Homo sapiens: one gene and its partner. The protein of the gene in region 1 interacts with the protein of each later gene in a pairwise test. Each region holds a gene or a part of one and is shown on either strand. Other genes may lie near its edges.

What was found.
Region 2: the proteins of SDC2 (region 1) and NF1 interact in binary tests that used the Homo sapiens proteins (3 or more experiments, as listed by UniProt).

The regions. Positions count from the first base shown.
Region 1 is NC_000008.11:96,496,748-96,500,497, forward strand, and holds part of SDC2 (syndecan-2 precursor), read left to right. Parts: intron 1-3,750. UniProt on the Homo sapiens protein: Cell surface proteoglycan which regulates dendritic arbor morphogenesis.
Region 2 is NC_000017.11:31,097,975-31,101,724, reverse strand, and holds part of NF1 (neurofibromin), read right to left. Parts: intron 1-3,750. UniProt on the Homo sapiens protein: Stimulates the GTPase activity of Ras. NF1 shows greater affinity for Ras GAP, but lower specific activity. May be a regulator of Ras activity.

The sequences.
Region 1 (3,750 bases):
CTTAAGTTTTATACTTAGCTCTGGGGGTAAAAAAGAGGTTCTCAGGAACTAAGGCTCAAAACTGCCTATGAAAAGGAACTGGTAGCTGTTCCTTTATGGATCCTGGAGGCAGCTGGGAAAGCCTGTTCCTAGTGATCCATTCATACTTTCCACTGGCAGGTTAGGACTTTGGCTGCGGAGCACCAGGCAAGGGGAAAATCTGACTGAGTGTGGCAGTAGTGATATGCTGCTGGTTTTCTGTCCATTTTGTACATGACTGTTTATCTTTAGAAATAATATATTGCAGACTGCTATAAACACATAATTTGAACTGGAAATATGTTTAAGAAAAGGAAGTGTTTTGAACTAGAGGAATTTTATAAACATTCTTAGATGTCTGTAAATTAAAAGAAACTGTCAAGTCATTTGGGCCCATGCATTATCTCTCGGTGTATTATGAAAGGCAGGCTCTGGAAAGTTTGCATTAGAAGGGTAACTAAAATCGAAATCATGTAACTTTGCAGTTCTTTAGAAAATATAGTTTGGCTGTTTTATGAGTGAAACAAATTGCTTTTGCTAGGGAATTTTATAAAAACAAGGGCTCTTTCTCTCTTAGTTGGGTATTAGCAGAAGGAGGATGTCATTTAAGAAGGAAAGATCTTGAAAGATCAGGCTTGCAGAAAATGGATGTCTGAGAAGCAATTTGAGCATGCCCTTCAGCTTCTGCTTTTAGGACCTGATATGTCTAGTTTTGATGGTAACCACCCTTCGAGGGGTAGCCTACCCTGTGTAATATGATCACTTAAATGGCGCCTTGGATAATCATTAGTTTGGAAAGGATTTCAAAAGGTGAACTGGTTTGTTCCCTGGGTGGAACTAGTTTTCAAGTCTCCAAAAGCCCCCAGAGACCTGACTGGCCAGCTAGAGGTGGCTTGGAGTCTCCTTAGGTTGGCAAGGCCCCTGAAGCTGACCCAGTCACACAGAGCCCCACCAGCCCTGTCATTAAGGTTTATAGCAAGTCCAGTCAAGCCACTGTGCTGTTGGCATACCTGCTGGTGGGGATCCAGTTGTCCTGTGAGGAATGCCATCTGGGTTTAGATTCTCACTAGATTGTCCTTCTTCCATTGCCAAAAATCAAACTAAAAGATTTTGCCCATCCTTTTCTTCTTCCCAAGGCAGAAGGGTGCATTGCAGAATCTCCAAACCACTGAATTCTTTTCGTGGACTAGAGGCCAAAATAAAGTCTTAGAGAAAAGCCAGAAGTAATGAAGAAGAATCTTTGCTAAAACCAATCTACTCTTATTTAACTTTTTTAGTCAACTGTGACAGTACTATCATTTTCATTCTAATCATTTGGATTTAAATCTTGAAGAAGCCCTGGACTCATTCATCTTTGTTGGTTTCCACGTCCAGTCTGCCTCTAAGTCCAGCTGTGCATTCATTCTGCAGATATTTATTTCATACCTACTAGGTGCTTGAGGTAAAGCAGTGAGCAAACCAGGCAGATATCCCCCTGCCTTCTTGGAGCTTGCATTCTAGTGATCTTTCCGTTCATTTTTTCATGCCTTCAGTGGCCAGCGTGGAACTTCCTCAGGAGTGCCAACCGGCCCCAGAATGCCCTGGCCCATGGGAACCTGCACTTAAAGATGCAGCACCAACAGGTGTTTACCCAGCTCCTGACCTGAGCTCAGCACTGCAAAGAAGTCGGGGTTTGGAAATGTGGTCCCTTCCTGCAGCGCTAATCTTTTTTTTTTTTCCTCTTGAGATGGAGTCTCACTCTGTCACCCAGGCTGGAGTACAATGGCACTCTGCAACCACCACCTCACTGCAGCCACCTCACTGCAACCACCACCTCCCAGGTTCAAGCGATTCTCCTGCCTCAGCCTCCCGAGTAGCTGGGACTACAGGCACATGCCACTGCACCTGGCTAAATTTTGTATTTTTAGTAGGGATGGGGTTTCAACGTGTTGGCCAGGCTGGTCTCCAACTCCTGACCTCAGCTGATCCACCGCCTCGGCCACCCAAAGTGCTGGGATTATAGACGTGAGCCACTATGCCTGGCCATTGGTCTCTTCCTGCAGCACTAATCTTGATGGGACAGAAAATTTCAAATGAAGAGCTTTCCCTCTTTTTTTCTTCCTTGGGGGCATGCCAGCTTGTGCTTCTATGTCAGTAGCCTTGTAGTTGCCATTCCTGGCCCAGACACTTGCATGCAGTTTGGTTTGTCCTCCACCACTTTGATCATGTTGCCCATGGTCTAGACACCTCCGTGTCCTTGTTATCATGGCATATAGTCTGTATGCCTCTGCTGGATTTATAAGCGGCCCCATAATAGCCTTCCTTTCTGGTTACCCCCTTGATCACTTTCCACCACATCTCCCAGCCCTGGCCCATTGATATCACTATCATGAACACTCCCTGGACATTGCTACTTTTTCAGTGTTTCTCCTTTTAAATGCTATTGATTAAATGCAAGCTCCAAATACCTTTTCATGGCTGATCCAGCCCTGTTGTTTTTAATCCTTCTGTAAATAGCAAGGCATACTGATGATCAGAATCATTGAAAGTATGTGAAAATACAGATTTCAGGCCTCCTCTCAGACTTACACAATCAGAAACCTGAATGGGGGTGGGAGTGTGGGGGAAACTGTATTTTTATAAAGCGACTGAGATGATTCTAATGAATCAGACTAATTTGGGAATCGCTGGTCTAGATCACAGCATTACCCCTTAATTATGTGCTATTCTATGTTACTACTAGAGTTTTCAGCAGTAGCTGGGCTTAGAATACAAAGGGCTTGGGCTTGGGAGGTGGACAAGTCTGGGTTCAGATGCTGGTACCTTGCCACTTAATGTGTCAGAACTTGGACAGTATATTAAAGCTCTGAGTCACTTAAAAAAGTGTGTGTGTGTAAATTGGACCTAAGAATGCCTTTATAACATGACTGTTGTGAAGATGAAATGAAGGGAGCATATGAATGGTGCTTGAGGCACGGAAGATAGGACATTTTTTTTTCTTCCTTTCCTCTCTTGGCCTTTTTTTTTTTGGCAATGAAATGAATGAAATGAGGGAGCCATGTCAGATGTTCTTACCTCTCTGACATTCTAAATAGGTGAATTTTCTCTCCCATCAAGGTTAGTGCTATAGGAAGAAACCATGTTTCCAAATCTCCTACTCCTGTGCAGTGCTGAGCTGGGTAAACATCTGTTGACACTGCATGCTGAAGTGCAGATACCCGTGGGCCTGGACATTTTGGGGTTGGTTGGCACTCCTGAAGAAGTTTCACGCTGGCCACTGAAGGCATTATGGTTCAGGGTCAACTGAATACACCAGCCCCCAGTGGACCTGGGCTAGTTGTCCAGTTTTGATGCCTCTGCACTCAGTGTCATCAGCATTGCAGGGTTGGTGTCAAGAATAAAGAAGACATTGATGTAACGTCTTGACACATCAGCTGTGCACAGTCACACCTCCTCCTCTTCCCTGAGGCTGTGCTGAGATTCCAGCACATGGGAAGGAGAGAGTTAGAATTTAGTCTGTATCATGCGTTGGTATGCCGTTGGTCATTTAGAATGAGGTGGCAGGGGTAGTGAGTATATTTTGGGGATCTGGGGGCAGAAAAGGGATTATTTTTATTTTTTAAGTGTGGAAATGTGGCCTGGCGCGATATCTCATGCCTGTAATCCCAGCACTTTGGGAGGCCGAGGTGGGCCAATCACCTGAGGTCAGGAATTCGAGACCAGCCTGGCCAACATGGTGAAACCCCGTCTCTA
Region 2 (3,750 bases), on another chromosome or scaffold:
AAAAAAAAAATGAAATCTGAGCTGAACATTGAAGGATGGACAGGAATTAGAAAAGCACAAAGGAGGAATTAAAGCATTCAGGCAGAGACTGGCAGAAATAAAGGCCAAGAAGTGGGAAGAAGCATGATACACACAGAAGAGACTGAGGTGACCTGCCTGGAACATAGGTGCATGCAGAGGCATAATGGGAAAGAGTTTGGTAAATCAAGTGGGGTCAGCTCCCAATAGACTGCTGGGTCACAGAGACATGCTGTTAGAATATTAAAATCATCGAATATTTAAACTTGAAAGAATCTAAAAGATTTTCTAGCCATTTCTTTTTCAACAGATGAGGAAATCAAGGATCTATAGGAAAGCTAATGGCTAGGATAGGGACAAAGGCACTGAATAGCAGAACAAAACTAAGACCCCCGCTAAGGAACTCCAATTCAGTAGAAAAGTATTGTGTCTTGGGAACTGGAAGAGATTGGTTTCCGGGGGGAGTGGAACATCACAGTGGCATTACAACTAAGCAATGACCACTATGTTTTGCCAGAAGTAATCACTTTCAAGAAAACAGCAATCAAGCAGAGGCAGGAGCTACTTTTCAGAGTTATAAAGGAAATGGGTGGATAAACAGTAGAGGCGGTGAGTATCTGGCAACAACAACAACAAAAAAGACTGGTCCACAGAGAGAGAGCTGCAGGACCAAGTAAACGTCTGATTTCCAAGAGAAAGGAAATCTTAGCCTGAAAAGTGAAAAGAAAGCAGCCAACATAAAGACTAAATTAGTTCCCAGACAGATAAGGTGGAAAGTGTAAGGGAGTGCAGAGAACTGAGGAACAGCTGGAAGAAATCTTTCTAAAGGATGAATTCCGGGCCGGGCACGGTGGCTCATGCCTGTAATCCCAGCACTTTGGGAAGTCAAGGCAGGTGGATCACGACATCAAGAAATTCAGACCCATCCTGGCTAGCACGGTGAAACCCTGTCTCTACTAAAAATACAAAATTAGCTGGGCGTGGTGGCATGCGCCTGTAGTCCCAGCTACTTGGGAGGCTGAGGCAGGAGAATCGCTTGAACCCAGGAGGCAGACGTTGCAGTGAGCTGAGATCGCGCCACTGCACTCCAGCCTGGGCGACAGAGTGAGACTCCATCTCAAAATAAATAAATAAATAAAAATTTAAAATAACAATAATAATAAATTAAAAAATTCCGAAGCAAAGAATAAGCATTATTGTGCTCGATTCAGCACCACATATACTAAAATTGGAAGAATAAGCATTATTTCTCACTCACCATAAAGAATTCGTCACCATAAAAGAGTACTCATTTTCAACTACTATAAGGCCTTATAAAAATTACACACCAGGCTTGAAGAATGAGGCTAGGAGATATTTTTTAAATCCAAAAAGCTTCAGTTTTGCAAATCTATTTGTCTAATCAGTATGTGGTTTGTAATTTCGAAGATACTTGCCAATCATTTTATACTGTGAATCACTCACCGCATATTCAACGTACATTCAGATGAACACTCAATGTATGAGAACAACAAATATGCTACTACAACCTCTAAAATCAGAGTTTATTCCATAACATATTCTTTAAATTGGGTTTTTTGGCTTTTATGTACTACTTTTGCTTGATCAGATATGGAAAATATAATTGCTTTAAATGAACATATTTACAACAAATCATTTTGGGATGGAGTTCTTTTTAATTCTTTTTTTTTTTTTTTTAGTTCAAATATCCATAGTTTTCCCATACTTCCCTTCAGAAATAAAGCTCTACAGGAACCAGTGGGGCATACAGAACTAGGGGAGATACACAGAAGGTTCTAATTTGCTTAGAAACTGGGTTAATGAACCACAATTAAAAGCTACACATGGCCGGGCGTGGTGGCTCACGCCTGTAATCCCAGCACTTTGGGAGGCCAAGGCAGGTGGATCACCTGAAGCCAGGAGTTGGAGACCAGCCTGGCCAACACGGTGAAACCCCCGTCTCTACTAAAAATACAAAAATTAGGCAGGCGTGGTGGTGGGCGCCTGTAATCCCAGCTACTTGGGAGGCTGAGGCAGGAGAATGGCTTGAACCCAGGAGGCAGAGGTTGCAGTATGCTGAGATCTCCCCATTGCACTCCAGCCTAGGAGACAAGAGCGAAACTCTGTCTCAAAAAAAAAAAAAAAAAAGCTACACACCTACAATTTGTCAGTTTCAATTAGAAACTTGCTATTTGGCACCACGAAGGCAGGTTAAGGAGAGATGTAAGATTTAACTGATAACATTCAGCTTTCTGGCTGTCCACCTGTGCAACTGTCATTTCCCTAACCAAGGAGGTGATTACTTCTAAAATTGGTAATACTCATTCAACTTAGACCCTAAATACTAGGTTTAGCTGCAATATTATCAGGTTAAGGAATTTTATATTACCCACAAGAATGTGAGCTCAAAATGTCAATATGGCACACATCCACTTCTTTTAACTGAGTCTACTGCACTAAGTTGCTAAGCGATACCCATCAGAGTGCAATATGTCTGTAATCAGCAGTGGCTAGAAATGCATTTCTGCTTTAATCACACCGAATATTAGAAATCCAACCAAAACAGCAATCATAAACAGAGTTGCCATCTTTAGACATGCACATGCTCCCTGGGGGCGTTAAGTGGTCCAACAGGCAAACTCTTAGCTGTAATAAGAAGGAAAGCTTAACTCCCCCTGGGCCCAGTAAAGCAAAGTACAGATAATATAATCCAAAATTCAAAAGTTTTATAAACAGTTGAAACTATTAAGATTCTTTTTTTTTTTTTTTTTTTCTGAGATGGAGTCTCGCTCTGTCACCCAGGCTGGAGTGCAGTGGCGCAATCTCGGCTCACCGCAAGCTCCACCTCCCAGGTTCAGGCCATTCTCCTGCCTCAGCCTCCCAAGTAGCTGGGACTACAGGCACCCACCACCACACCCAGCTAATTTTTGTATTTTTAGTAGAGATGGGGTTTCACTGTGTTAGCCAGGATGGTCTCGATCTCCTGACCTCATGATCGGCCCGCCTCGGCCTCCCAAAGTGCTGGGATCACAGGCGTGAGCCGCCGCGCCCGGCCAACTCTTAAGATTCTTATACAACTATCTCTCAGTACATGCAGGGCTTTTTCTCCCCTCAATAAAAATGTAAGCGATGGCTCACGCCTGTAATCTCAGCACTCTACTAAAAATAACAAATGTTATCCAGGAGTGGTGGCAGGCGCCTGTAATCCCAGCCACTTGGGAGGCTGAGGCAGGAGAATCACTTGAACCCAGGAGGCAGAGGTTGCAGTAAGCCAAGGTCGCATCATTGCACTCCAGCCTAGGCAAGAATCATGAAACTCCGTCTCAAAAATAAAAAAAATAAAATAAAGTCTTCTAAATATATTTAATGGATTAGAACAAATTTTATGGGATACTTAGGAAAAGTATCTCCCTGATGGTCAAGCATTCACTACTTTTCATACTGAAGCTCTTATTAGATCTATGTCACTTAACCTTCCCATGCCTCAGTTTTCTGACTAAAAGACATTTTCAACCGTAAGGTGAACTCTAATTTGAATTAAACATTTATCACTTATATAATAAATTAATATATTAATTTATTTTATATATATACTATATATAATATATATAAGTACCTTATGTTAAACACTGAAAACCCTTACATTTTTGTATCTCAAGGTCAGAGACTTTAACTTTCTAAGAGAAAAATGTGAGGAATAGGCCAGGCACAGTGGCTCATGCCTGTAATCCC